Regions from separate parts of the Homo sapiens genome. Here region 2 is linked to region 1. The links come from fine-mapping of genetic effects on gene expression. A gene starts in region 1. The other region holds a variant in brackets. All regions are shown on one strand. Distances are from middle to middle.

What was found. PIP is the estimated chance that this variant, and not a neighbour inherited with it, causes the effect.
Region 2: its variant is fine-mapped to the expression of CEP43 in whole blood (TOPMed, PIP above 0.99).

The regions. Positions count from the first base shown.
Region 1 is chr6:166,986,476-167,002,469 of GRCh38, reverse strand. CEP43 (centrosomal protein 43) reads right to left here and starts at 3,073. Exons shown (of 13, transcript NM_007045.4): 1 at 2,956-3,073; 2 at 2,357-2,410. The coding sequence starts at 3,057. MIR3939 (microRNA 3939) reads left to right here and starts at 4,558; the gene lies at 4,558-4,663. RefSeq lists silencers at 2,612-2,701, 2,712-2,871, 2,962-3,481, 3,772-4,001 and an enhancer at 4,542-4,591.
Region 2 is chr6:167,075,629-167,091,622 of GRCh38, reverse strand. No RefSeq gene overlaps it. Among named protein-coding and RNA genes, the nearest start is that of CCR6, 39 kb to the left of the region's middle. RefSeq lists enhancers at 10,874-11,374, 11,420-11,759, 12,590-12,769. The variant C/G (reference allele first, on the strand shown) is at 7,500.

The sequences.
Region 1 (15,994 bases):
AAATCACAGATCCAAGCAAAGACTTGTATGTGACTGTTCACAGAAACCTTATTTGTAATACTCAAAAACTGGAAACAGCCTAAATGTCTGTCAGCAGGTAATGGCTAAACTGTCATATCTGTACAATGTATTAATGAAATGATTTATTAATACATACCACAACATGAATGAATTTCAAATGCATTATGTTGAAGAAACAGACCAAAAAAAAAGAGTACCTACTATACGATTCCATTTATATAATTCTTAAAAAGGTTTGGGGTGGGGGAGAGGGTTACATAAGGGGCACAAGGAAAACTTTTGAAGGTCAAAAGTTTGAAGGATATGCGCAGTACCTTGATTGTGATGATCATTTCACAGCTGCATAAATTAACTATTAAAAATCAAATTGTACATATTAAATACTTTAGCTTTACTATAGGTCAATTTTACCTCAATAAAGTTGTTAAAATAAAAGACAAGGAGAGGAGAGATCCTCAAGGTAGTTGGTAGGCTGGTTCAGGGAATTCTAAGATAGGGAGTCAACTGAAATATTTTAAGAGAATGGAGGGACAGATCAGATGTGTACTATAAACAGCCAATCTAGGAGCAATGTGGAAAAAGGACTTCAGGGAGATGGTGAGGGACACCACGGAAACGGAGACTGGCAAGTAGGAAGGGGATAAGGCAATCTGGAAAAGAAGAAACAAGCACAAAGGAGGCAGCAGAGCACTCCCTTGGGGACACTTCAGATACACACCTGACAGACACAGAGCCAGGTGATGGCTGAGCAGGTGGAAAGAAGAGCAAGGCCTAAGAAACGCTTAGATTTCTTGCCAGATAAATGATGGTCCCATTAAGGGCATAATACAGTGGGCAGTTTAACATACAGGTCTGAAGCTCGGGAAAGAAACATGCATGAAAGTTACAGGGCTGGAGTTACTGGATGAATAAGGTCAGTCTGTGAGACAGTACAGAATGACAACTGTGGATAAGTCTCAGTCAGGTGTACAGGAAAAAGATCATGCTAAAGAAACCAAGGAGTGGTCAAAACCAGGTTGTGAAGGAAAAAAACCACAGCGGTATTAAAAGCAGAATGTGAGTAAAGGAAAACAGTTTACTCCTAATAGTTATTTAAACATGTTTTCAAGCTCAAAAGAAAAGCCATCAGAAAAGGAAGGGGTCAAAGATACAGTAAATAATTAAAGACTTGAAAGTATACACAAGACAGAGTGATTATTCTTGGACAGGACAGAGCCTCTTCTTCTAAAGCAGTAAGGAAAGAGGTACAGATAAACATAGACACAGGTAAGCATTTTCACAGGTGAGCAATAGATTGAGGGACAGGAGAGGAGGACATAAAGTTAGGATCTAATGGCTTCTACCTTCCCTGTGGAGGAAGCAACAAGACCATGTGTTCAGAGAGAAGGAAGCAGGGGTGACATAGAAGGCTACTGCACAGCTAGGGTGAAGAAGAGAGCTGCTGGGCCTGCTCAGGACCTAACCAGGTTGGTACCTGCCAATTTGCAACATCAGCAATCCACAGGATTGACTGACTCTTCTCCAAGAGCACATATGTGCAAAGTGGGAAGAGTTAGTTTGCTGGGTTAAATGACCACTGAGATTTCTTCCAGACCACGTATGACCGTTAAGGCAAGGTAATTAGGGGTCCAGACCCATAGGGTCCAGAGCAAAATGCTGCCAAGAGAAGACTGATGCCTGCACAGACATGGAAAGGGCAAAGAACTGAAGATTTTGATGAAATTAGAGATTAGGTATACAGGTCTAAAGAAGTGAGAGGACAGTAGACTGATTTGTCATACAGCAAGAGTTTAAGGCTTTGATGATGGTTCTATTCTTGTTGACAAATTCCAGAATATTTACTCAGGATGGTTGGTGGGACTCCGAAAAAGTTAAATTACCCACTTAAATATAGAGTAGTGGCTGCACTTTTAAAATAATCGCTGTCTTTTTCATTGTCAAAATAATTGAGTGGTCAGATAATTTTGGGAAAAGTTGCATACTATATACCCCGTTTCATAGGGATTAATAACATATTAGCTTACTAAAGGATCTGAGTGAACCTGCACTTAACACATTGACAATGGCACCATTTCTTCAAGAAACTCCTATGACCATTTGTTTCAGATTAAGCATTAGTATCAGAGTTACTGTGGTACCTTAAGATTACCCCCAAATTCAAAAGCTACACGAAAAAAGAATAATTTTGGCTCTCTCTCAATAGTAATGTAATCCTTAACAGTTCAAAATTATCCCTAGCTATATGTTACTATAAACTATTTTTAAGACGGTTTTTAATGAATAAGAAATTAAGTATTAACGAATACAGCCATGTTAAAATCTGGAAACTTCATACCTCTACTTTTTCTTGCTCCTCTAGTGCTAAAAACACAGCTGCTCGGAGTTCAGCCTTAAAAAAAAGTTAAGAAACAGGAAATTATAATTTCAAGACAATTTTCACAACAAGCTCACATTTATCCAGCAACAAACACGAGCAAGCCAACGAGCTGGGAGGGCAGGTGCAAAGGTCAGAAACGCCTTCCGAAACGTTCTCAGTCACACAAGCTCTCCGACCCCCAGGCTTCGGCTGGACGCGCTGCTTTCCCGCCGCGGATCATGCCCGAGCCTGAGGAAGAGACGCTGGGGCCGCACTCCAGGGCCCAGCTGCGGGCCGCCCGTGTGGCCCCCAAGCCCCGCGGTCCCGCCCCCACGGAATGAGGCAGGGGATGGGCCAGGCACCCCCAGTCCGCGGTGCCCTCCGGGACCACACGAACGAACGAGCCGACCCCCTCTGTGGGGCGGGCAGGACGGAGGCCATGCCGGGGCGCGCCCCCAGTGCCCGCCGGCCCCGGTCCCTCGCCAGGGAGGCGGCCTCCTCGCCGCGACCGTTGTGACGCCCGCTGTCCACGCAAGCCCTGCGGATCCGCCAGGCCCGGCCCCAGCCTCCGGCCTCACCTTGATGCGGTTCAGGACCCCGCTGTTCTCCAGCGTCTGCACCAGCAGGTCCCGCAGCTCCGTGTCCTCCTCGGCCACCACTGCGGCCGCCGTCGCCGCCATCTTGCTTCTCCAAGACAACCGCCGAAGCCGCGCTAACGGCCAACGGCCGCAGCAGGGTACGCTCCGCGCGCGGGCTACGCGGCCGACGCAGCCAAAGCCCCGCCCCGACGCGCAGCGCGCTGGCCCTGCCCCCTGGCGTCGGGAGGCGGGGCATAGAGACCTCGGGGTTGACGCTGGACACCGAGCCTTGGGGAGCGCCGGACCACTGAGCGCCGAAACTTAGGGTCGGCGCTGGGGGCGGGGCTGCGGGGCGCGGGTGGGCACGCAAGGGGCGGGGCGTCGGCGGGGCCTCCAGCCGGCAACCCGTTGGCTGCCGTCGCCTGAGGCGCGAGCTTTGAAGCCGGCGAGCGGTGAGGAGGAGGCGCCCTCGCGTGTGGAGAGCGGACTCCGCCTGGACTCCACCGCCCACGGCCGCATCCCATCGCCGCACAAGATCGCCGGAGTCATATTATCGACGTAGTTAAAGCCCACTAGCCTAAAGCCGGGCGGACTGCGGTAAGGAGGCCCCGAGACCGAACCTGCAGCCCCTGCAGCCCCGGGGGGGCGCCGGGGAAGGGACTCCCGAGAGGTCGCGAGGGGCGGAAGGCCCTGCAGGTTGTCACCCGGAAATAACGTTCTGAGGCCCCCCAGCCAGGCGAACGCACCCTGCTCGGCCACGGCCTCCGAGGCTAACCGGAAAGGTGCCAGGCCGAGGTGCAGGGGCGGGATGGCCCCAGGAAGAGCCGAGGGCCGAGGAGGGCGTTGGGTGGGCTCCGCGCTGCCCGAACTGGGGCCGCAGTCTCCACTCCCTCCTGCCCCGCGGCCCTCCGCCGACAGCCAGGCGCCGGCGGGGAGTCCTGGACCCCTCCCGGGCCCTGGAAGCCCCGTCCCGCCGGAGCTGACGCGCCCTCTTGGTATCCATCCGGCCGCCTGGGCTGCCCCTCGCCCCTCGCCTTGGCAAAACCAGCCCCCGGACCGAGCCCTGCCTTGGAGAGTGTGGGTGCGCAAGGCCAGCCGAGCTGTCGGTTCCGGGGTTTCGGGGTGCGCCACTGTATGGCGGCGTAAGCCGAGAAGTGTCCGAGGCCGGGCTCCAGCAGTTGAGAGGCTGATTTGGCCACGGTGAAGGACGCGCCCGGAGGAAGGAAACGGGAATCCGAAACGGGCGGTGGCCGCGCCTTTCCCGAGGCCGGCGTCGAGGGCTTCAGCGCCTCAGGGTGGGCGGGAGGGGAAGGTCGTGCGACCCGCGTGGCCGGCGGAAAGGAGCAGCGGGAGCCGCGGCCGTAGGGAAGCCACGGGAAGACGGGCGGCTGCGCTGCGATGCGCGGCCCTCTCCCTGAAGCCCTCGGCTCAGGCGCCACAGGAAAGGCTCCTTCGGGCAGGCCTCAGCTTTCAGCTTAAGTTTTTTTCCTTTGGCCGAGTCAACTGCGGTGCCGAGTTGTATTTTCCTTTCAGAGGTGTGTCCGAGAACCATTCTTAGGAGACGCCTGCCGGCCGCTTTGGGATAGGGCCTGTCTGCCCATGCTGGCTTCCAAAGGCCTCTGTGTGTTCCTGTATGTGGGCGTGCACGTACCTGTCACATGTGTACGCGCAGACCACAGGATGTCCACACTGGCTTCCAAACACATCTCTGTGTTTCTGTCTGTGAGTGTGTACGCAGGTGTCAAATGTGTACGCACAGATCACAGGGTGTCCACACTGGCTTCCAAACACGTCTCTGGGTTCCTTTATGTGCGTGTGTATGCACTTGTCATGTGTACACACAGATCACAGGGCATCCACACTGGCTTCCAAACATGTCTCTGTGTTTCTGTCTGTGGGTATGTACACACATATCACATGTGGAAGAGGTAGGAAGAGGCTGGAACAGGTAAGGGTCATGAAGGTGCAGTGCACTATTGTACTGTTTGCGCTTTATATGTGTTTGGTTAGTTTTGCAAGAACATGCTGGTGAAGGAGAGAGAACCCCAAACAATTGATTAGCAGTGCTACTGAAACTCAGATATACACAGGAATGGCAAAGAAACATCTATGAAAAAAAGCAGATTCTGGAACTCCATCTCCCTGAGATTGTCACTCATGGGGTCTGCAGGAAGTTTCAGGAATCTGCATTTTCTTCTAATAAACGTGGTCCACAGGTTATAAGTTGAGATACAAATAGAATATATAAAGTAAAAAAGGAAAATTTGAAGTTTCCTGCCTAGCCCAACTCTTCTCATTGGTAGTGTCTGTTAAATTGGAAACATATCTCTTTCCAGACATATTAATACCTTTTATACAGTTGACTCTTGAACAACATTAGTTTGAACTGCGTGAGTACACTTATATGTGGATTTTTTTCAGTAAATGGAATATTTTTGGCGATGGCAACAATTTTGTGAAAAACCTCACAGATGAGTCGCTTAGCCAAGAAATATGGAAAAAAAAAGAAAAGAAAAAGCTAGATATGTCATGAATGCATAAAATATATGTAGATACTAGGCCATTTTATTATTTACTATCATAAAATATATACAAGCCTGTTATAAAAAGTTAAAATTTATCAAAACTTACACGTACAAACAGACAGTTACATGGCACCCATTAGGTTCAAGAGAGGTGTAAACAGTTGTAAAGATGCAATATTAAATAATAACTGCATCAAATTCACTGTAGTACATAGAGTACTACTGTAATGATTTTGTAGCCACCTCCTGTTGCTATTGCAGTGAGCGTCAGTGTTGCTGGTATTGGCTAAAAATTCCAAGTAACATAATCATCTCTGAGTGAGCAGTTGATCTCTCCAGTACATTGCATATCACAGTAAAAGGTAAGCTCTTGAGGTTCTCACATATTTCTCGTTGTGTTCACTGCAGTACTGTAAACCTTGCGTAACACCATGGGACCATTACGAAGTGCCGCTAGTGGTGCTGGAAATGCTCCCAAGAATCAGAGAAAAGTTAATGACATTACAGAAAAAGCGGAATTGCTTGCTGTGTATTGTAGATTGAGGTCTGCAGCTAAGGTCGCCTGCCATTTTAAGATAAATGAATCCAGTATAAGGACTGTGGTATAAAAACAAAAGGAAGTTTATGAAGCCATCGCTGCAGCTACACCAACAAGCATGAAAACCTTGCACTTTTTGGGAAATACCTTTTTATCTCATATTGCAAATGCAGCTTTTTGTGGGTGCAGGATTGCTATGAGAAAGGCATACCTATATAATCTAATATTCAAGAAAAAGTGAAGTCATTATCTGACAAAGCAAAAGGAAGATGAAGGAAGGTATGATAATTTTAAAAAGTGGGTTGGCTTTCAAAAAATGTCAAGATAACAGGAGAAGCAGCTTCTGCTGACCCAGATGCAGCCGACGAGTTCCCAGATACCATTAAGGAAATTATTGAGGACAAAAGGCCAGGCTTTGTGGCTCATGCCTGTAATCCCAGCACTTTGGAAGGCTGAGGTGGGTGGATTGCTTGAAGCCAGGAGTTCGAGACCAGCCTGGCCAACATGGCAAAACCCTGTCTCTTCTAAAAATACAAAATTTAGCCAGGTGTGGTGGTGCACATCTATAATCCCAGCTACTGAGGAGGCTAAGGCATGAGAATCGCTTGAACCCAGGAGGCAGAGGTTACAGTGAGATTGCACCACTGCACTCCAGCCTGGGAGACAGAATGAGACTCTCTCAAAAAAAAATAAATAAAAAATAAAAATAAAAAAAAATAGAGAAAATCACTGAGGAGAAAAGATATCTGCCTGAACAGGTTTTTAAGGCAAACGAAAATGCCCTATTCTGGGGGAAAATAGTGCCACAGAGGATATTTATTAGGAAGAGAAGTGAACATCAGGATCCAAGGCGGGAAGGGATGGGCTAACTGTACTGTTTTGTGCAAATGCAGCCAGATGTATGATCAGGACTGCCCTTATCTATAAAATTGAGCCTTGAAGGGAAAAGAAACACTGCCTGCCACTCTTTTGGTTGTACAGCAAGATGGCTGAGCAGCAACTCTTTTTCTGGATCAGTTATATAAATGCTTTGTTTTTAAAGTCGGGAAGTACCTTGCCAGTAAGGGATTGCCTTTAATGTTCTTTTGATATTGGACAATGCCCCTGGCCACCCAGAACCCCATGAGTTCAATACAAACACATTGAAATGGTCTACATGCGCCTAAACACAACACCTCTAATTCAACCTCTAGATAAGGGAGTCATAAGGACTTTAAGGATCATTACACACAGTACTCTGTGGAAGAGAACCCCAATTGAGAGAATATCATGAACGTCTGAAAGGATTACACCATTGAAGATGCCATTGTTGTTTCAGAAAAAACCATGAAAAGCCATCAAGCCCAAACAAATTCCTGCTGGAGGAACTCCAGATGTTGTGCATCACTTCACAGGATTTATGACAGAGCCAATCAAGGAAATCATGAAAGAGATTGCAGATATGGCAAAAAAGGTTTCAAGATACAAATCTTGGAGAAATTCAAGAGCTAAGAGACACCACACCAGAGGAATTAACAGAAGACCACTTGATGGAGATGACTCCTTCTGAACCCAGTGCCAGACGATGAGGAAGAAGACGAAGCAGTGCCAGAAAACAAATTGACATTAGACAATCTGGCAGAAGGGTTCCACTTATTCAATATGGCTTTTGACTTCTCTTATAACATGGACTTTTCTATGAAACAGGCACTGAATCTAAAGCAAATGGTGGAAGAAGAATTGGTGCTAAATGGAAACATGTTTAGAGAAATGGAAAAGCAAAAAAGTCAGACAAATTATGATGTATCTCCATCAGATTACACTTATTGTGCCTCCCTCTCCTGCCTCCTCTTCCACCTCTTCTACTTCTGCCACCCCTGAGACAGCAAAGCCAACCCCCGCTTCTCAGCCTATTCAAGGTGAAAATTATGAGGACGGAGACATTTATGATGATTCACTTACACTTAATGGAGAGTAAATATATTTTCTCCTCATGATTTCCTTAAAACGTTTTCTTTAGCTTACTTTATTATAAGAATACAGTATATAACATATGTAACATACAAAATTGTCGAGTGCGGTGGCTCACATCTGTAATCCCAACACTTTGGGAGGCTGAGGCAGACGGATCACTTGAGACCAGGGGTTTGAGACCAGCCTGGCCAACATGGCGAAACCCCGTCTCTATTAAAAAGATAAAAATTAGCCAGACATGATGGTGCGTGCCTGTAATCGCACCTACTCGGGAGGCTGAGGCAGGAGAATCTCTTGAACCCAGGAGGCGGAGGTTGCAGTGAGCCGAGATTGCACCACTGCACTCCTTGCCTGGGTGACAGAGCAAGACTCCATCTCAAAAAAAAAAAAGTGTTAATTGTTTATGTTGTTGGTAAGACTTCCGATCAACAGTAGGCTGTTACTACAGTTTTGGGGGATGGAATTTTGACTGTGAGGGTCTGTGCCCCTAACCTCATGTTGCTTAAGGGTCAACTGTACATAGATATGTTACATACACACACATACTTCCTCCCTCTCTGTAATTTGGATCCTATGCCTATTATCTTTTAGTTTACTAACTTGACTTAAGAAGTCCTGATCATTTTTTGATGTTCATGCATACCGTATAGATCCTACCTCATTTGACTCCTACAAAATATTTGTTAAGGGTGTTCTAAAAGTTACTTTTTGTAGTTAAACTACACTTTATTTACATTTGTTTGTTATGGAAATAATGCATAATAATCGTTAAAAATCCAAACAAAAGGGGGGAACATATTAAAAGAAAAGTAAGGGTCTCCCTGCTACTCTACCTACCTACCCACCTACCTTATCTGTTACCATATCCTAGACCCAACTGCAATTAACAATTTCTGGTTTTAGTTCTTCTGGTTCTTTTCATTATAACCTTAAATACTGTACATATACATCTTGACTCACCAGCTGAAAATCCTTCAAAGGGACAAAAACTTATTCTTAACTCCTAATTTAAAAAATTGTATTACTTTTAGTTTTGCTAGAAGCTTTCATGACTTTAGGTTGTTTACCTAAATCATTATTTATAAATTTTACACACTGTATATTGGCTCCCTACTAGGAGAGGTGAGGAATTGGTACATTCTTACTTTCTCGTCTTTTCCCCTCCCCCTCCTAATTTTGTTAGTTTCATTCTCATTTTTAGTCTGTCAAGAATTTGCATTCTTTTTGTAAATAAAATTACAGACATCCCTTGGTATCCATGGGGGATTGGTTCCAGGACCTCTCGTATACACCAAAATCCACATACACTCAAATCCCACAGTTGGCCCTGTGGAACCTGTGGATATGACCATTCGCATCCCAAGAATACTGTATTTTCCACCTATTCTTGGTTTCAGTTGTGGAACCCACTGATATGGAGGGCCAACTGTATATATTGAAAACAATTTGCATATAAGTAGACCCACACTGGTTCAGACCCCTGTTGTTCAGGGTCAGCTCTATATCTTTCCAACTTTGTGCATTGATTGAAAAACCAACAACAGTATGATATTAGGGCTATAACAGATCTGTTAGGCCAAGCCCACATGCCCCTGAACAGAACATTCTGCACATTGGGCCAACTTCCAACTGCCGGCACCTGAAGTTATTTGCATTATCAGCTATCTTTGTCCACCAGAGCCTGCTCTGCCTGCATTTTGGGAAGACCTAAAGTGCCAAGGAATTAACACACCCTGCAAGTATGCTCAATTGAAGGCAATGAATAGAAAAAGACCCCTGACTCCTTCACCCCTGGATTTCAGGGAGGTAAATCCAAGATGTATGCTAAGGAGGTGACACTTAATGTCAGACACACACACCTGTTATGAGAGTTTCCTGATTGAATAAGAAAGAGGCATTCCAGGCAGAAGTACCCGAACATACAAGAGTGCAAGACCAAGAGGCTAAGGCAGATTGCTCTGTGCAAGAAGTGGCAGGTAGTGTGGCGTGGCTGGAGATGAAGAAATGACTGGATTGGGAAGGACTTTATCCACCAATCTAATGAATTTGACTTTCATCTTGAAGGTGTGAAATAGCGTGCTAAACAAGTTTAAAAGCAAAATGTCATTAGCCTATTTGTATTTAGAAAGAGCACTCCAGAAGCAAGGAGGGGATGGGTGAATTGGATGTACTGACACTGGAACAAGGAAATTATTCCAATAGTCCAGGAAAGAAGAAGGACATCAACTAAAATTGCACAAGTGAACATGGAAAAAAGAGGATGCGTCTGAGAAATATAAATATTGGCCGGGGCGGTGGCTCACACCTGTAATCCCAACACTTCGGGAGGGTGAGGTGGGCAGATTGCTTGAACTCAGGAGTTCAAAACCAGCCTGGGTAACATGGCAAAACCCCTCTCTACACAAAATACAAAAATTAGCCAAGCGTGATGGCATGGCCTGTAGTCCCAGTTACTCAGGAGGCTGAGGTGGGAGGATCACTTGAGCCTGGGAGGTTGAGGCTGCAGTGAGCCATGATCTCGCCACTGCACTCCCACCTGGGAGATAGAGTGGGACCCTGTCTAAAAAAAAAAACAAAGAAATATAAATATTGTATTAGGGTTTACCAAAGAAACAGAACCAATACGATATATGTATGTATACGGGTATATATATAAGGAGATTCATATAAGGAACTGACTCACAAGATCACTGAGGCTGGCAAGTCTACAGGATGAGCCAGCAAGCTGGAGACCCAGGAGAACTGATGGCATAGTTCCTGACCAGAGGCTAGCAGGCTTGAAATCCAGGAAGAGTCAGTGTTTCAATCTGAGTCTGAAGGCAAGAAACAAGCTGATGTCCCAGTCAAAAGATCAGAAGGCAGGAGAGATTCTTTCTTACTCAGGGAGGATCAGTTTTTTTGTTTTATTCAGGCTTCTAACTGATTGGATGAGACTCACTCATATGTTAGGGAGGTCAATTTGCTTTACTCAGGCTATCCATTTAAATGTTAATCTCATCCCAAAACACCCTCATACACACACCCAGGATAATGTTTCAGCAAGTATCTGGGCACTCTATGGCCCAGTCAAGTTGACACATAAAATTAATCACAAATATGTTCCAGTAACTTAGTTTTTAAACAACTAGATTCTTATGAGAATAAACTCAGGATAGGATAGGGGAAATGCTTTCTGGCTTTCCACTTGCATATTCTTGGAATGTCACTTTTTCTTAAATGTTAAAAATTGAAGGCCAGGCATGGTGGCTCATGCCTGTAATCCCAGCACTTTGGGAGGCTGAGGTGGGTGGATCACGATGTCAGGAGTTCCAGACCAGCCTGACCATCATGGTGAAACCCCATCTTTACTAAAAATACAAAAAAATAGCTGGGAGTGGTGGCGCGTGCCTATAATCCCAACTACTCAGGAGGCTGAGGCAGGAGAATCACTTGAAACCTGGGAGACGGAGGTTGCAGTGAGCCAAGATCACGCCACCGCACTGCAGCCTGGGCAACAAGAATGAGACTCCATCTCAAAAAAAAAAAAAAAAAATGAAAATGTGTCGTTAATCATCGAGATAGTCTTTCAGTCTGCACTCAGTAATATTAATGCCTTCTCATTGAAGTCATCTATTCTGTTCCCATAAAGATCAGGATAGTTTAGGTAGTGGTGAATAAATAAGGTTCTCAATGGCCTATTAGTTTTTTTAAATGTTCAAAAGATAGTAGCATGTTGGGAAAAGAGATGAATTCCACATTTCTTTTGGTACAGTACAACTTACTGAAATTGCTTTCTTATTTCAACAAGGATTTACCAGGTTGTGTGTAGTGGTTAAAAGCATGGACTTTACAGCCACATTACATGGGTTCAAATCCACTTACTAGTTATGTTAACCACAGGAAGTTAGCTAATGTCTCTCTGCCTCAGTTTTCTGTTTGTAAATTAGGATAAAAATCTCCGTAGATGTGAATATGTATAGCTAGATAGTAGATTGTATTCAAAATCCCAATCATAACATAATAAAAATATTAACTATTATTAGTTGTTTTGAATATACAACCTAATTTCATTTTCTCCATGATCTGAGCATGTTGAGTTATTTTTAAACAACTCCATTTTACAGATGAGACAGTGTTCCAATAAGCTAGGTAGTATGCCCACAGACACACAGCTAGCAGCTGAGATGAACCACCCAAGTCTATTTGGTTTTCAGCTCATGTTCTTTTCATGATATTTTGCTTTCTCTCAATATTTATAGAATTTAATTTAATTGACTAGAATTAAACTAAGAGAAAATGATTGAATGAAGAGATGCAGAAGGCAAGAGATAGCAAAGGTCATTCTGGGCTGGGCATGGTGGCTCACACCTGTAATCCCAGCACTTTGGGAGGCCTAGGCGGGTGGATCATCTGAGGTCGGGAGTTCAAGACCACCCTGGCCAACATGGTGAAACACCCCCGTCTGCTAAAAATACAAAAATTAGCTGGGTGTGGTGGCAGGCGCCTGTAATTGCAGCTACTCGGGAAGCTGAGGCAGGAGAATCGCTTGAACTGGGGAGGTGGAAGTTGCAGTGAGCCGAGATGTGCCATTGCACTCCAGCCTGGGCAGTAAGAGCGAAACTCCGTCTCAAAGCAAAAAAAAGAAAAGCTACCTTTACCAAAGACAGTTAAAATGATGGCCACCAAGGGGCAGTGTGCAGCAGGCAGAGAAGGTGGCTTTTTAAATTATTTTTCACTGCCTGCTGAGACAAAGATGTTACACCAGAATATGCCACCCTAACATATGCTTCTTTGGCATAAGGATTATTTTGAGCTGAAGACGATTGAGAAGAAACAAATAAAAGAAAAACTCTGCCTTCCCTTTCTTTGCCTAAAGGCAGGACATGCTAGTTAATGATCAACCCCTGACCTAATCGGTTATGTTACCTATAGATTACAGACATTTTATAGAAAAAGAAAAACACGGTGAAAATCCCTGTCCTGTTCTGTTCCATTGTAATTACCAGTGCATGCAGCCCCCAATCACATACCCACTGCTTGCTCAATCGATCATGACACTCTCATGTGGACCCCCTTAGAGTTGTAAGCCCTTAAGAGGGAAAGGAATTGCTCACTTGGGGAGCTCGGTTTTTGGAGACGTGAGTCTGCTGATGCTCCCAGCTGAATAAAGCCCTTCCTTCTACAACTCGGTGTCTGAGGGGTTTTGTCTGTGGCTACAAACCTGTCTTTGGCCAGTCTAATTTACAGGACCTCAGCCAGAGAACTAAGATGGGTAGAGGCAATACAGGAGATAGAAATAATTTAGGTAGGTAGATAGGGTGAAAGAGTCCCTGACAAAAGCTTTTCTTCTGACAAAAAACAGCTCAGAAATTACTTCCATTCTAACCACAGGCAGTCCAAATAAATCACTTCTCTTTTAACAAAGAGCAGCCTGGAAGATTGGACTGTATAATGTAGATAAGCATCTCCGGCACAGAGGGAGAGTTTCTTGGGTAGTCACCAAACTTACATAAATGGGTCCCAGTAAAAACAGTAGGCTTTAATGAGCACATTCCTTTCCCCTTTTTTGGACAGGGACACACTAAGGTTAGCTAGAAGCTTGCATGGTGGGGTGGGGGAAATGCCTGCAGCTGCAAGGAGGTACCCAGGACAAGGCATGGAAACTCCCCCTATTCTTGTTAGCACATGCAAGGTGGAAGGAGAAAGGCAGTGTGGAGTCGCCCAAGCTAAGAGCCTGCCTGCATGATAAAAGAATGGGGTAGGGGCTGCCAGAGATTCCACTCTATACAGATGACACACCTGGTCCTAACCAGGTTTTCATGCCCTATGTAGATAAGATACCCGCTCCCTACTAGCTCGTTGATAAAAACCCTCCATTTTACTGCAGCACGGCAACCCGTCTGGGACCTCTCTCTGTGAGAGAGAGCTGTCCTTTTCCTTTTGCCTATTACACTTCTCTAACTTCACCCTTTGTGTGTCTGCATTCTTCATTTCTGTGGCCATGAGACAAAAAACCTCAGCTGATATCCCAGACAACAAGGCTGCTTTAGAGGGAAAACGGATAGCTAATATTATCAGTTAATTGGCTATGTTAATTGATACCTTCAAATTAGGTGTTTTAAAATAAATGCTGAGAACAATATGAAAGTGTTTTTCTTTTACTAATTCTCTGAGGATTTTGTTATTTATTTAGCTTTACAATGCCTAGCCCCCTTTATAAATGTAATTATTGTGTTGCTAAGTGCATGTATACAAAAAATTCATTGGTTCAAAAGCCATAGGCCTGGTACCATAGCCATATATGGTACGTTCAAACCTTGGAAATGCACATTCTCAGTGTGTCGGAAGCTCTGTACTGCTCCTTCTTGAAGAACTACTTTGATTTGTGGTTAACTCGCTGTTTTGACTCACTGTTTTAACTCCCATTACTTCAGTATCTGACATTCAGCCTCAGAATCTGGCCAGTGTATCAGGGCTGGAATTAATTGATTAACACCATTAGATGGCAGTACTATTTAAATTCCAAAAATGGTTATAAACTCATTCTCTAAAATGTGTGTCAAATAGAATATTTGACTGATAATAACTCTAAGAGCACAAAAGGATTAAACACACACACAAGACAAAGTTTGGGATATACCCATTGGAAAAACCCTTGGTCTCTTTAAATTTTTTTTCATATGTATGTATATTGCACATATTGCCGGCCTCTTTATCTCTTTTTTCCTTTTTTTTTTTTTTTTTTTTGAGAAGGAGTCTTACTCTGTCACCCAGGCTGGAGCACAGTAGTGCAAACATGACTCACTGCAGCCTTGAACTCCTGGGCTCAAGCGACCTTGTCACCTTAGCCACTGTGACCAGCCTTCTTTTCCCTTTTGACTTTGTTATATCACACTGACTCTAGAAATGTGGTTCTTTATTGGGGCGATTTTGCCCTCCCCCGGGGACATCTGACAAGGTCTGGAGACATTTTGATTGTGGGTAGGGGGAGGGACACTCTGCTACAGGCATCTAGTTGGCAGAGCCCAGAGATACCGCTACACACCCTACACTGTGCAGAACAGCCCCTACGGCCAGGAATTATCAGGCCCAAACAAAATACCAAGTTAGTTTTTAATTTCAAAGTTTACGCGTAACATTATTTTTTAGATATAAAAAATATTCACACATTAATTTGATCACAAGAAATTTTAAAGAAATTTAAACATTTTCAGAAAAGGCTACTTCAAGGTGTCATGACAGCTTTGGACCAAACATTAATGTTCTATATGACTTTGGGCAAGTCAGTCATGTTTATTAGACTTAATAACCCAGGTAACGTTAGCTGTTGGAGGGTTTTTTAAAAAACGTTTTATTTTGAAAAAACTTCAAACTTAAAGGAAAAATGGCAAGAATACTACAAAGACCTATTTATTCAGATACACCAGTTGTCACAATTTTGCCATATTAACTTTATCTATTGATCAATTTCTCTTTCAGTCTATTGACCTATCTATCTTGAACTATTTGGGATTAAGTTGTAGACATCTGATCCCCTTACCCTTAAACACTTTACCACGTCTTCCTAAGAATAAGACCATTACTCCACACAGTACACTTATCTAAATCAGGAGACAGCATTGTTATAATACTGTTACCAAGTGGCAAGCTGGTGCACTGTCCAGACAGGGAGAGAGGGAGAGAGGACCTGATTTGTAACATTTGCCAGTTCCCATGTGTGATGGTTTACTTTGGTTCATAACTACCATTGTCCTTGTTACAGTCTTTTATTAAAATGTGGGGTGTGTTAGGCCGCAAGGGCAGGCCTCAAGAAACAGAATCTCTCTCCTGCCCTCCTTTCACCTGCCCCAAGGCAGGATTCCATCTTCTCCCACCTTTCCAACTGTGGGTCTTAAGACTTTTCAGAGAGGGTCCTGCCATACACACTGGGGGAAGGAATGCTGACGTCATGAAGCTTCCATGAAAACTCAAGAGGACTGAGTTCAGAGAGCTTCCGGATAGCTGAAAACATGGAGGTTCCTGGTTCCTGGAGGGTGGCGCCCCA
Region 2 (15,994 bases), 89 kb before region 1:
AGAAAGAGTTGCTGAGTGAGCGTGTGAATGAAGACTTGATGACTGACATACAAAATTAAAGAATCTGGGGTTTTTTAAAAGCTTATCTCATTTTTTGCAACAATCTTTAGACCTGATCTTCGATCAGCCTTTAGCTGATGTATAGATAGGGTGAGGTTGCCACAATCTGGGGTAGATCAGCTTTGTGACTTGTCATCTAAAAAGGGGAAGAGGTTTAACTTGAAAGAGAAAAAAAAAACAGTAGACGACCTTTATGTGGAACAGTTACGCGAAGCCTCATCGGTGGCCAGGCAACTTCCTTTCCAACTTCTTCTTACTCGGGACCCTCTGCCCATGTTTACATCTTGCCAAAGACCATGGAAACTGGTAAACATCTTGCCAAATAAAGCTGTTTAGACTGACTGAACATGCAAAGACGCCCTCTGTCCCTTGGACAACTACAGGTCAGGGAAATGAATGGAAGTCACATGAGACTCTACTCTTTCAAATTCCCTTTTAAAGTGGAAATTCCCTCGCTTGGTTATAGTATTAAAGGGAACAAGCCTAAGAAGTGGAATTACAGGAAAAATGGGCACGTGAGGATATGAGAGTATAGATGGTGTACGCTCATAGATGGTACAGAGTAGATGGGCATCATTTGGATAGAGAAACACAAAACACTCTTTGCTGAACTTGAAGATGATATTGCTGGTTAAGAGCACAGACTTGGGAATTATATCAGCATTTGAATCTCGACTCTTGACCCTACTACTTCCTAATGGGGTGATGTGTGTAAAGTTGTTAATCTTTCTGAGCCCTACCTGCCTCATGTGTGGTATATAGAGATGCAGGCACCTCAAAGGCCTGAGTCTGACACACAGTGGATGGCGAAAATTGGAGAGCTGGAGGAGGAGAGGCACATAGGTCATGCCTAAGTCATGAGAACATACAAACAACAAAATCAACAATAGAAATCTAGCTTCACTTGATTGATCCAGCTTGTCGGAAGATTGCTAAGAGATTCCACTCAACAACTAAACCGCCGTTCCACACTATGATTGCTGACTTGAGGCTGGTAACACCTTTTGGGAACGCTGTCTTGGGAACGTTCACAGGAAAATTGCTCCTTTGGGTACAAGGTTTTGAGATACAATCTCTGGGTCAATGAGTACTTTACATACAGGAACCCCAAAATGGAGGAAGTAGGCTATGGAGGAACAAGAAAAGAAGGGAAAAACAAAGCAGCCACAGAGGCGAGGTGGCTGCTCCCCTTCCTGCCACCTGGAGGAAGTTGGAGGCTAGTTCTGGAGACATCACAGTTTCTATTACTTTGGTTACTTGGCAGAGCCTAAAAACTTCCTCTTGTGTGGAAGAAAGAAAATCCTTTCTGTGTTGCTCCCTGGAGGGAAGAAAACCAGGCTGACTCTTGCTTCCATTTGAGGAGCTCAAAGGAAGCCATTTCCCACGATGGTCCCCCAGGCACAATCCTGCATGGAGCCCAGCCCTGGCCCACAGCTCCTTGACTACAATCCCCTTGACCCATTCATCACCCTTGCCACTGGCCCTATTCTTTGTGACTTGGCTCAACACTGGTGACTTCTTCTGCTGCCCTATTCACCTCCAGTCTGAGACTCAGGAGCATGTGGCCACCTGCTGCCACAGAGATGCCACACACATGGCCCAACGCCAACGGGGTCGCTTAAAATACATTGCTGATCTGTGGCCTATGTCTGGAGGAAAGGGGCCGGTGGGGTCCTACAGTGACCCGAGAGGCTCCTATTCTGAACCACAGAGAGCACCACACCAAGAGGCTGGTGTGATATGCTGCTGGGCCCACAGTTTTCATGGGCCCCATGTGCCTGGAGTGAAAGGTCTTTAGATCAATCAAAGAGATCCAGTGTCTGGGGAGTTCTTGTTTCTTCACACTGACCACTTCAATAACGCAAGGACGGGGATTTTCTTGGCTTTGACCAAGGCTGCAGTCTCTCCAGAGCTGAAAACTCAAGTTACTTCTGCCTGGTTCTGGCCTCCCCTGACTCGGCTCTGCCATTAACCAGTAAAACTAGTATCTCCTGTTCTAGAGGGAGGTCGTCATCCTGGTAGAGGGCCATGTGTAAGGATCTGCACCCCTCTGTTTAATTCTCCAGGAAGGTCACTGCAGCTGAGGTCAACTTCCTCCCCAGAGAAGCAAAACCTGTTGGCTGCAGAGGCTGCTTGTTAAACAGAGAGGCGTTACCTCCAGGAGATGTGTGACATCAGACTTTTCAGGGATAGTGCCCAGAAAGCTCAGAAACTTTGCTTAACAAACTCTTCCAGGTGATTCTGATATTAGCTAAATCTGAAAACCACAGAATTAAATGATGTTAGTTTTTTTCCCTCGAAATTTAAGTTTCATACTGACCCTTGAACTACTTATACTGAAAACATTTCAAACATTGATAGTTCATTGATACTAGCAACTGATCTGAAATTATTACTTTGCCTAAAAAAAACTGACAATTTCAGAATATTATCATTCCTTAGTAGTTTGCATTTATGACATTAGATAGTTCCAACTCCTTCCTCCACTTTGTGCAAATGATTTCATGTATCTTATTTCTACATCTGTCATAAACCCTGTTTACTATTTTTAATTTAGTTAACAATTTTTTTTTTTTTTTTGAGACAGGGTCTCACTCTGTTGCTCAGGCTGGAGTGCAGTGGTGCAGTCATGCCTGACTGCAACCTCACCCTCCTGGGCTCAACCTCCTTGCCTCAGCCTCCTGAGTAGCTGGGACTACAGGCATACACCACCATGCCCAGCTAATTTTTGTATTATTTGTAGAGACAGGGTTTCACCATGTTGCCCAGACTTGTCTCAAACTCCTAAACCCAAGCCATCTGCCCATCTCAGGCTCCCAAAGTGCTGGGATTACAGGCATGAGCCACTGCACCTGGCCACCATAGTTGACAGTCTTTTAAAGAATCAGCCATGAGAAAATGTTTTTAATATCCACTTTTACTATTTCTGGTGCTCACTTCTCTGTGTAACCCCAAATTTTTATCTGGTATAATTTTCCTATAGCCTAAAGAACTACCTTTAACATTTATTGTAGCACAAGTCTCTCAGCAGTGAGTTATCTTAGTTTTTCAGGGTCTAAAAAGCTTTTATTTTTGCCTTTAATTTAAAACAATATTTTAATGGATCTGTAATAGAATAATAGAATTCTGGATTAATTGTTTCAGTACTTTAAGATGTCAGTTCATTAACATCCAGCTTACATGTCTGACAAGAAATCTATTACAATTATCTTTCTTCTTGGGTATGTAATGTCCCCCACAACTCCCAAATGCATTCTACATTTTCTCCTTATCTTTGGTTTTAAAAAGTTTGATTTTATGTGTCTAGGTGGGGTTTTTTTTTTTTTTGGTATGGAGATTTTTTATTTGTTTTTGTATTTATACTGTTGGGATTCCCTGAGCTTCTTGGACCTGAGGTTTGCTGTCTTGCATTATATTTGCAAATTATCTCTTTAAATATTTCTTCTGTTTTATTCCTTGCTGTTTGTTTGCTTGTTCTGGGACTCCAACTGCATGTACATTAGATGATCTCACAGCTCTTGGAGGCCTTGTTAGACAGAGTTTTTCCCTCTATTTTATGTTTTTTTTTTTGTTGTTTTTTTTTTTTTTTTTTTTCTGAGACAAGAGTGTCACTCTGTCGCCAAGGCTAGAGTGTAGTGGTGTAATCTTGGCTCACTGCAACCTCCGCTTCCTGGGTTCAAGCAATTCTCCTGCCTCAGCCTCCCGAGTAGCTGGGACTGCAGGCATATGCCCCCACACCAGGCTAATTTTTGTATTTTTAGTAGAGATGGGGTTTCACTGTGTTGTCCAGGCGGGTCTTGAACTCCTGACCTTGTGATCCACCTGTCTTGGCCTCCTGAAGTGCTGGGATTACAGGCATAAGCCACTGTGCCCAGCCCATTTTATGTTATTTGTGTGTCATTTTATATGATTCCTGTTGACCTATCTTCAAGTTCCTTAATCTTTCTTCAGCTGAGACTAGTTCACTGATAAGCTTTCTGAAGGAATTCTTTATGTCTTATATATTTTTTGTAGCATTCCCACATGTCTTTTATACTCTCTATCTCTCTGCTGAAATTTCCCATCTGTTCATGTATGCCATATGCCTTTTCCTCTAGATCATTTAACAAATTCTTCAGGGCTTTTTTGTATTGTTTTGTTTTTGTTTTTGTTTTGTTTTGAGATGGAGTTTTTGTTCTTGTCGCTCAGGCTGGAGTGCAATGGTGCAATCTTGGCTCACTGCAACCTCTGCCTTCTGGGTTCAAGCAATTCTCCTGCCTCAACCTCCCTAGTAGCTGGGACTATAGGCACCCAGCACCACGCCTGGCTAATTTTTGTCTTTTTAGTAGAGATGGGGTTTCACCATGTTGGCCAGACTGGTCTCGAGCTCCTGACCTTAGGTGATCTGCCCACTTTGACCTCCCAAAGTGCTGAGATTACAAGTGTGAGCCACCATGCACAGCCTCATCAGAGTTATTTTAAAGCCCCTGTCTTAGAGTTCCCACATCTGGGCCATCTTGAATTCTGGTTCTATTGATTGATTGCTTTATAAGTTGACTATGAGTTGTTTTTGTTTTTGTTTTATTTTGTTTTCTTAACTGTCATTTTTTGATTTACTGCTGGAAATCATGTGTAAAAGTAGACACTGTTTATGCCCTTAAAAAATAGTTTCATGTCAGGGTGAGGCATCGCCTCACCCGGGAAGCACAAGGGGTCAGGGAATTCTCTCTCCTAGCCAAGGAAAGGGGTGACAGACGGCACCTGGAAAATCGGGTCACTCCCACCCTAATACTGCACTTTTCCGACAGTCTTAGCAAACGGCACACCAGGAGATTATATCCTGTGCCTGGCTCAGAGAATCCCATGCCCACGGAGCCTCACTCATTGCTAGCACAGCAGTCTGAGATCAAACTGCAAGTTGGCAGCGAGGCTGGGGGAGGGGTGCCCGCCATTGCCAAGGCTTGAGTAGGTAAACAAAGTGGCCTGGAAGCTCGAACTGGGTGGAGCCCACCGCAGCTCAAGGAGGCCTGCCTGCCTCTATAGACTCCACCTCTAGGGGCAGGGCATAGCCAAACAAAAGGCAGCAGAAACCTCTGCAGACTTGAATGTCCCTGTCTGACAGCTTTGAAGAGAGTAGTGGTTCTCCCAGCATGCAGCTGGAGATCTGAGAACGGACAGACTGCTTCCTCAAGTGTGTCCCTGACCCCCCAAGTAGCCTGACTGGGAGGTACCCCCCAGTAGGGGCAGACTGACATCTCACACGGCCAGGTACTCCTCTGAGACAAAACTTCCAGAGGAATGATCAGGCAGCAACATTTGCTGTTCACCAATATCCGCTGTTCTGCAGCCTCTGCTGCTGATACCCAGGCAAACAGGGTCTGGAGTAGACCTCTGGCAAACTCCAACAGACCTGTAGCTGAGGGTCCTGACTGTTAGAAGGAAAACTAACAAACAGAACATCCACACCAAAACCCCATCTGTACGTCACCATCATCAAAGACCAAAGGTAGATAAAACCACAAAGATGGGGAAAAAACAGAGCAGAAAAACTGAAAATTCTAAAAATCAGAATGCCTCTCCTCCTCCAAAGGAATGCAGCTCCTCACCAGCAACGGAACAAAGCTGGACGGAGAATGACTTTGATGAGTTGAGAGAAGGAGACTTCAGACAATCAAACTACTCCAAGCTAAAGGAGGAAGTTCGAACCCATGGCAAAGAAGTTAAAAACCTTGAAAAAAGATTAGACGAATGGCTAACTAGAATAACCAGTGCAGAGAAATCCTTAAAGGACCCGATGGAGCTGAAAACCACAGCATGAGAACTACGTGACAAATGCACAAGCCTCAGTAGCCAATTCCATCAACTGGAAGAAAGGGTATCAGTGATGGAAGATCAAATGAATGAAATGAAGTGAGAAAGGAAGTTTAGAGAAAAAAGAATAAAAAGAAATGAACAAAGCCTCCAAGAAATATGGGACTACGTGAAAAGACCTAATCTACGTCTGATTGGTGTACCTGAAAGTGACGGGGAGAATAGAACCAAGTTGGAAAACACTTGCAGGATATTATCCAGGAGAACTTCCCCAATCTAGCAAGGCAGGCCAACATTCAAGTTCAGGAAATACAGAGAACACCACCAAGATACTCCTCGAGAAGAGCAACTCCAAGACACGTAATTGTCAGATTCACCAAAGTTGAAATGAAGGAAAAAATGTTAAGGGCAGCCAGAGAGAAAGGTTGGGTTACCCACAAAGGGAAGCCCATCAGACTAACAGCGGATCTCTTGGCAGAAACTCTACAAGCCAGAGGAGAGTGGGGGCCAATATTCAACATTCTTAAAGAAAAGAATTTTCAACCTAGAATTTCATATCCAGCCACACTAAGCTTCATAAGTGAAGGAGAAATAAAATCCTTTACAGACAAGCAAATGCTGAGAGATTTTGTCACCACCAGGCCTGCCTTACAAGAGCTCCTGAAGGAAGCACTAAACATGGAAAGGAACAACCGGTACCAGCCACTGCAAAAACATGCCAAATTGTAAAGACCATCGATGCTAGGAAGAAACTGCATCAACTAACGAGCAAAATAACCAGCTAACATCATAATGACAGGATCAAATTCACACATAACAATATTAACCTTAAATGTAAATGGGCTAAATGCTCCAATTAAAAGACACAGACTGGCAAATTGGATAAAGAGTCAAGACCCATCAGTGTGCTGTATTCAGGAAACCCATCTCATGTGCAGAGACACACATAGGCTCAAAATAAAGGGATGGAGGAAGATCTACCAAGCAAATGGAAAACAAAAAAAGGCAGGGGTTGCAATCCTAGTCTCTGATAAAACAGACTTTAAACCAACAAAGATCAAAAGAGACAAAGAAGGCCATTACATAATGGTAAAGGGATCAATTCAACAAGAAGAGCTAACTATCCTAAATACATATGCACCCAATACAAGAGCACACAGATTCATAAAGCAAGTCCTTAGAGACCTACAAAGAGACTTAGACTCCCACACAATAATGGGAGATTTTAACACCCTACTGTCAACATTAGACAGATCAATGAGACAGAAAGTTAAAAAGGATATCCAGGAAATGAACTCAGCTCTGCACCAAGCGGACCTAATAGACATCTACAGAACTCTCCACCCCAAATCAACAGAATATACATTCTTCTCAGCACCACACCACACCTATTCCAAAATTGACCACATAGTTGGAAGTAAAGCACTCCTCAGCGAATGTAAAAGAACAGAAATTATAACAAACTGTCTCTCAGACCACAGTGCAATCAAACTAGAACTCAGGATTAAGAAACTCACTCAAAACTGCTCGACTACATGGAAACTGAACAACCTGCTCCTGAATGACTACTGGGTACATAACGAAATGAAGGCAGAAATAAAGATGTTCTTTGAAACCAATGAGAACAAAGACATAACATACCAGAATCT[C/G]TGGGACACATTTAAAGCAGTGTGTAGAGGGAAATTTATAGCACTAAATGCCCACAAGAGAAAGCAGGAAAGATCTAAAATTGACACCCTAACATCACAATTAAAAGAACTAGAGAAGCAAGAGCAAACACATTCAAAAGCTAGCAGACGGCAAGAAATAACTAAGATCACAGCAGAACTGAAGGAAATAGAGACACAAAAAAACCCTTAAAAAAAAATCAAGGAATCCAGGAGCTGGTTTTTTGAAGAGATCAACAAAATTGATAGACTGCTAGCAAGACTAATAAGGAAGAAAAGAGAGAAGAATCAAATAGACGCAATAAAAAAATGATAAAGGGGATATCGCCACCAATCCCATAGAAATACAAACTACCATCAGAGAATACTATAAACACCTCTACGCAAATAAACTAGAAAATCTGGAAGAAATGGATAAATTCCTTGACACATACACCCTCCCAAGACTAAACCAGGAAGAAGTTGAATCTCTGAATAGATCAATAACAGGCTCTGAAATTGAGGCAATAATTAATAGCTTACCAATCAAAAAAAGTCAAGGACCAGATGGATTCACAGCCGAATTCTACCAGAGGTATAAGGAGGAGCTGGTACCATTCCTTCTGAAACTATTCCAATCAATAGAAAAAGAGGGATTCCTCCCTAACTAATTTTATGAGGCCACCATCATCCTGATACCAAAGCCCAGCAGAGACACAATAAAAAAAGAGAAGTTTAGACCAATATCCCTGACGAACATCGATGCAAAAATCCTCAATAAAATTCTGGCAAACCAAATCCAACAGCACATCAAAAAGCTTATCCACAATGATCAAGTGGGCTTCATCCCTGGGATGCAAGGCTGGCTCAGCATACGAAAATCAATAAACGTAATCCATCATATAAATAGAACCAACGACAAAAACCACATGATTTCTCAATAGATGCAGAAAAGGTTTCCGACAAAATTCAACAGCCCTTCATGCTAAAAACTCTCAACAAATTAGGTATTGATGGGACGTATCTCAAAATAATAAGAGCTATCTATGACAAACCCACAGCCAATATCATACTGAATGGGCAAAAACTGGAAGCATTCCCTTTGAAAACTGGCACAAGACAGGGATGACCTCTCTCACCACTCCTATTCAACATAGTGTTGGAAGTTCTGGCCAGGGCAATTAGGCAGGAGAAGGAAATAAAGGGTATTCACTTAGGAAAAAAGGAAGTCAAATTGTCCCTGTTTGCAGATGACATGATTGTATATCTAGAAAACCCCATCGTCTCAGCCCAAAATCTCCTTAAGCTGATAAGCAACTTCAGCAGAGTCTCAGGTTACAAAATCAATGTGCAAAAATCACAAGCATTCTTATACACCAATAACAGACAAACAGAGAGCCAAATCATGAGTGAACTCCCATTCACAATTGCTTCAAAGAGAATAAAATACCTAGGAATCCAACTTACAAGGCACGTGAAGGACCTCTTCAAGGAGAACTACAAACCGCTGCTCAACAAAATAAAAGAGGATACAAACAAATGGAAGAACATTCCATGCTCATGGGTAGGAAGAATCAATATCGTGAAAATGGCCATATTGCCCAAGGTAATTTATAGATTCAATGCCATTCCCATCAAGCTACCAATGACTTTCTTCACAGAATTGGAAAAAACTACTTTAAAGTTCATATGGAACCAAAAAAGAGCCTGCATCGCCAAGTCAATCCTAAGCCAAAAGAACGCAGCTGGAGGCATCATGCTACCTGACTTCAAACTATACTACAAGGCTACAGTAACCAAAACAGCATGGTACTGGTACCAAAACAGAGATATAGACCAATGGAACAGAACAGAGCTCTCAAAAATAATGCCGCATATCTACAACCATCTGATCTTTGACAAACCTGACAAAAACAAGAAATGGGTAAAGGATTCCCTATTTAATAAATGCTGCTGGGAAAACTGGCTAGCCATATGTAGAAAGCTGAAACTGGATCCCATCCTTACACCTTACACAAAAATTAATTCAAGATGGATTAAAGACTTAAATGCTAGACCTAAAACCATAAAAACCCTAGAAGAAAACCTAGGCAATACCATTCAGGACATAGGCATGGGCAAAGACTTCATGTCTAAAACACCAAAAGCAATGGCAACAAAAGACAAAATTGATAAATGGGATCTAATTAAACTAAAGAGCTTCTGCACAGCAAAAGAAACTACCATCAGAGTGAACAGGCAACCTACAGAATGGGAGAAAATTTTTGCAAGCTACTCCTCTGACAAAGGGCTAATATCCAGAATCTACAATGAACTCAAACAAATTTACAAGAAAAATACAAACAACCCCATCAACAAGTGGGCGAAGGATATGAACAGACACTTCTCAAAAGAAGACATTTATGCAGCCAAAAGACACATGAAAAAATGCTCATCATCACTGGCCATCAGAGAAATGCAAATCAAAACCACAATGAGATACCATCTCACATCAGTTAGAATGGCGATCATTAAAAAGTCAGGAAACAACAGGTGCTGGAGAGGATGTGGAAAAATAGGAACACTTTTACACTGTTGGTGGGACTGTCAACTAGTTCAACCATTGTGGAAGTCAGTGTGGAGATTCCTCAGGGATCTAGAACTAGAAATACCATTTGACCCAGCCATCCCATTACTGGGTATATACCCAAAGGATTGATTATAAATCATGCTGCTATAAAGACACATGCACACGTATGTTTATTGCCGCACTATTCACAATAGCAAAGACTTGGAACCAACCCAAATGTCCAACAGTGATAGACTGGATTAAGAAAATGTGGCACATATACACCATGGAATACTATGCACCCATAAAAAATGATGAGTTCATGTCCTTTGTAGGGACATGGATGAAGGTGGAAACCATCATTCTCAGCAAACTATCGCAAAGACAAAAAACCAAACACTGCATGTTCTCACTCATAGGTGGGAATTGAACAATGAGAACACATGGACACAGGAAGGGGAACATCACACACCAGAGCCTGTTGTGGGGTGGGGGGAGTGGGGAGGGATAGCATTAGGAGACATACCTAATGTTAAATGATGAGTTAGTGGGTGCAGCACACCAACATGGCACATGTATACATATGTAACAAACCTGCACGTTGTGCACATGTACCCTAAAACTTAAAGTATAATAATAAAAAAAGAAAGCTTCATGTGTGGTGCAGGGGATGAAGTGTTTGCCCATCTAGTCAGGAGTGGAGCTGGATTTGATTTTTTCTTTTATAATTATCACCTTCAGTGCACCACAAGCTTCAGAACCCTCCGGTGATAGATGCTGGGGCTGACATGGGGCTGACCTATGGAGGGTTTTTCTCAGGATTCTCTCTCCATCTTCCACTTTCAGCCATTCCCACGGAGGACCAGGAAGTTGCGGCTGTTTTCTCCAGTGACCCCATTCGAACGCTGCTGCAGTGACTGATTTCAACTGAGAAAGGGTGAGGCCTAGACAGGCAAGCATGAGATGAGGGACGCGTCTTCGGGTCACTTGTTGGGGCTGAACGCTGTGTCATTTGCTGTTCTGTAAGGAACGCCTGTAGTGGTTCTTGGGGACCAGAGTGGAAGAAAAAAAAACATTCCTCCTTCTCTCAGAAGTTGAAGATTCAGGGAACGCAAAGCCATTTTCATTGATTGGCTGTGCAACTGCCCATTTCTTAATGAGAACCCTAGAAAGCATAACTTCTAATTCAGAAAGGATGCTGAGGTGTTCTCTAGGCTAGTGTTTCTCAAGCTTTCATGTGCAGACGAAGCACTGCAATGTGAATTCATGTGGATTCACTGGTTCTGATACAGTAGCCCTGGGAGGGCCTGAGAGCTCCAGGTGACAGCAAGGCCCTGGCCTGGGGCCACACTTTGGGCAGCAAGGCTCTGGCACACACAATGAGAGCCAGACCCGGGACCCGTGGAGCACTTCCCGAGGATCTGAGGCTCTCATCGCTCTCCACCACAAAACGCGCTCTACTGGAGGCAGTGACACAGAATTAGAAACTCCACAAGTTGACTGAAAGGATGTCTCAACTTGAGGACCTGAAACTGAGACGTTTATCAAGGGCCCCACTGGAACAACGGGGACTTCCCCAGGTTTCCAAGACAGACCAAAAAGCACAGCAACAGCACAAATGGCAGTGCCCCTCAATGGCTGTGAGTGACATGACATGTGGCAAGCCCTGCTCTGAGCCAGGCCGTAAGCCAAGCATGTTTAGGAACGTACAGCCTCGTCCCAGGGTTCATGGTGTACTTGCTTTTCAAATGAATGTCTCATCTGCAAATCACATATTATCATGCCTGGAGAACATGATAAATGTGTTGTTCATATTTCATTTTGTTTTCTATAAATATTTCATATCCTCCTCTGAAGCCCAGGAATCTACCTTGCCGGCCATAGGACTTCCACTTTTCATTCCCATTATTCACAGACCCGCTAGAGGTTCTGCCTGTGTGTGTCCCTCTATATTAAGGAATATTTCATTCCACTTATGCTAGAGCACAGTAGACATCTGCTGCTACATGAGTGTTTCTAAAGCTTCCACCTCTGTGAAAATGTGCATACTGGGGATCTGTGCTATATTTAAAGGAAGATCTTAAGAAACGCCAATTCCCCATCGTAAGATAGAACTCAGGCAGTGTCGTCTAATAACAGATCATCCAATGACATGAAAGTTTTCACCAAAAGAAAAGGAGTTCCTGCTGATGCTTCCATGGGAATAGGGTCTATAGGAATCTGCTGTTCTTTCTGAAAAGGTTTCTTATCAGCCCCTCAGCAACACTCTGTAGGAAATCCTCACTTGCTGTTAGAAGCAACTATACTCAGATTTTCATTATAGAAAGAGTATTGCTTCAGGCTCCAAGTCTACAGTCCCAAACCCAACTTTATCTGATTATTAGTTCCTAGAAAAAGGTGTTCCTAGAAAAAGGTATTCCTAAATATCACTTTAAATTAGACCATAAAATGATGAGTCTTATTTTGAATTTTCTTCTGGGAATAAAAAGCTGTCATCCATTGTGACATCTCACATGGCACAGGCATTTATAGAACGCCAGAGTCATGTTATCTGAAAGTGAAATTAGTGTGCTCCAGAATCTCTCATCTTTCTCTGTGTCTGTGGGGCAGTCATTCGTGTTTCATCAGTATTTCCAGGTCTCCGCCTTCTGAGCACGGAACAGATCAGCCTTCATCACTGTCGGGGGTTACAGGACTTGCTCTGCTAATTTACTGAGACGAAGGCAATGTGTGCACTTCTGAGCGAAGCCTTCTGGTTCTGGTGTCCAGTTTGCTCTGTTCTTTCCTCTCCCTGGTACCCCACAGGGTGGAACCACGTGCAGCACCTCCAAGTGACAGCCCTGTGGGGCAGGCCTGGGAGGACACAGAGCCAGGTGAGACATGAGGCTGCTGGTTACTGTAGGAGAGTCTAGCCTCTCCTTACTGGTATGGGTGTTTTATCATAAGTAACAGGTTTGGAAAAATCCAAAGGCAAACAAAGATTTGCATAAAGATAAACAGTCTTAAAACTGTCTTACCCTTCTAGAGCACTTCTGCAAGAGAAGCTGCAATGGACTGGATTACGTCTCTCTAAAATGCAATATGGTGTAATGGGCTGAATATCTGTGTGGTCCCCAAAATTCCTATGTCAAAATCCTCACCCTTAAAGAAAGGGATGCTATTAGGAGGTGGGGCCTCTGGGAGGTGATTAGGTCGTGAGGGTGAAACCCCATGAATGGGCTTAGTGCCCGTATAACAGACCCCTGAGAGCTCCTTCGTCCCTTCTCCCTGTGAGGATGCAGTGAAGGCAAGAAGGTGCCGTCTGTGAACCAGGAATTGGGCCCTCACCAGACATCGAATCTGCCGGCACCTCGATCTTGGACTTCTAGCCTCCAGAACTGTGAGAAATAAATGTCTATTGTTACAACAGCCAGAACGAACTAAGACCAAGATGTGTTTTTGACAGACTCTGAAGGCTATTTATGTGCTGGGATCATTGCAATCTGTTCTTCACCTTTTTAAGAGTGTGGGATTTCACTTCCTAGATGTTATCAAACAGGCTGCATTCATAATTCTGGCTAACTATATGTGAGTGATTTCTCTGTACCCAGCAATGTGCTAAGTACTTTGCATGGAGTAATAATATTTCTCTTAATAAACCTATGCAAAAAAAAAATATTACAGATGAGGAAAGTGGAATTGAGAGAGGAAAGAAAACATACCCAGAGTCACAGGCCTGTAAGCAATGAAACTAGGGTCAGAGCTCAGGCCTATGTTCTGCTCTTGGTAAACAGAGAAGCTGTGACCTATGGATCTGTCTCTACACCTGCGCCCTATGTCTGGAACATACACCATTGAGAATTGCTGGCTCTGTGTGGCGGCCCCACAGACAATTGTTAACAGCCTTACGCATTGCTGAGGACTGACGGACCTTGGCAAGAACTCGGTCCTCTTAACATCCTCGACAGCTTGGGAATCGCAGAGGTGAGCAGAAAATAATAAAGTCTGAGAACCCACTATGTATTAGATATGGTTTTCCCATTTAAAACTCACAGCCTTTATGCAAGCTAGGTGTTATCTCCATTTACCGATGCGAAACTGAGACTCGGAGAGAGTGGAAATGGTTTGACCCTAACACAATCCGTGCACTTCAGAATTAGATTTCAACACAAAATTGGCCTGTTATGTACTGACCCTCTTTCCCCACATGACGGTACGAGTTATAGGACTGGATTCCAGGAAGGGCAAGCCATTCTGGAGGTCACTGGAAAGGTCAGATGCTGAACAGCTGCACCGTGAGGAATGAGGCTATGGGGCACTAGGGGGAAGCGTCAAAAGGGGACTCAGGAAGCTGATCTGCTTCGTAATTACATCTCCCAGGCCAGGTGCTTTGTCTCCAACTCACATCTGACTTAGTCACCACATTGTCCAGGTTATTTTAAGGAAAAATCAGAAACTGAACCGATTTTTTTTGCCAAACTGCTGAGGCTTTGTTATAAAGAAAAAACCAATGTAACCACCTGCTGGCTGTTCCCCCAAATCCATTCTCCCCTTCTTTCTGGAGAGCTGGAGAATGAATTTTCAAAAATTGACACATCAACTTGATTTCTATAATGGTTATGTTTAATTAAGATCCAAGGATTTACTATTTTAGTTTAGACAAGATCTATCCAAAATTTTAAGGACTCTGGTAACTAAGATTTATAAAATACAAGTCTAAAGTATTCCACTCTAAAGAGTTTAGCAGATAAAAACACTATAGGTAAATTTCCAGGAGAAAGAAGATGAGAAAATAGGTCTTAATTCCGAGTCACCAAGTTTCACCACCCCTTTAGTACTGCCTCAAAATCTTGACAAAATTAGGGGTTGCCTCACCTTCCTGGACAAAGTCTAACTTAGATTTATTTCCTTGCAATGAGGCAAGTTTCAGGACACTCAGAGGCAGAGTCCAGCCCAACAATCTTGCTCTGCCTTTGTCCCATAAGGTACAGTTTTCACTGGGGTGCAGATAGCATCTGCTTTGCTTCCAGCCCCCTGTTGAAAGTGGAACCTTTTCCCTGTTTCAATAGCCCAACTCAAAACACTTCACCCCACCCCACTCGCTGGCATGAGCCCACCTGGTTTCAGGGACAGACACTGGGAGATGCTCTGATCATGGCTGGGGTCTGTGGACTGTCCAGGTGACTCCTTCAGAAAGGGGAGGTTTTCTGATGTCTTTGAACAAGTTCTACTGGGCAGAAATGGTGAACTAATGTTGCCATTTAAATATAACTCTCTGCTACTTTTGGATAAACGTTCGATGGAACACTAAATCATTCTTCTCATGTCATTTGAAGCAAAAAAAGGAAGGAAGGAAAGAAGGAAAGGGGAGGGAGGGAGAGAGGATGGAAGGAAGGAAGGAAGGAAAGGGGGAGGGAGGGAGAGAGGAAGGAAGGAAGTGAGGGAGGGAGGGAGAGAGGAAGGAAGGGAGTAAGGAAGGAAGGAAGGAGGGAGGGAGGAAGGGAGGATGGAAGGAAAGAAGGAAGGAAGGAAGGAAGGAAGGAAGACAGGGAGACAGGTAGATCCCTTTTCTCTAACAGAAAAAAATACCTAGCAAGTATGTTTCTAAAAACATGAGATGGTCGGGTGCAGTGGCTCATGCCTGTAATCTCAGCACTTTGGGAGGCCAAGACGGGCGGATCACCTGAGGTCAGGAGTTCGAGACCAGCCTGGCCAAGATGGGGAAACTCCGTCCTCACAAAAAAATAAAAATAAGCTGGGCGTGGTGACTTGTGCTTGTAATCCCAGCTACTCAGGAGGCTAAGGCAGGAGAATCACTCAAACCTGGGAGGTGGAGGTTGCAGTGAGCTGAGATCACGCCACTGCACTCCAGCCTAGGCATCAAGCAAGACTCCATCTCAAAAAGGAAAAAAAAAAACCAAAAACCATGAACTGATTGAACTGATTAAATAGGTATGATTTCCCATTTTTA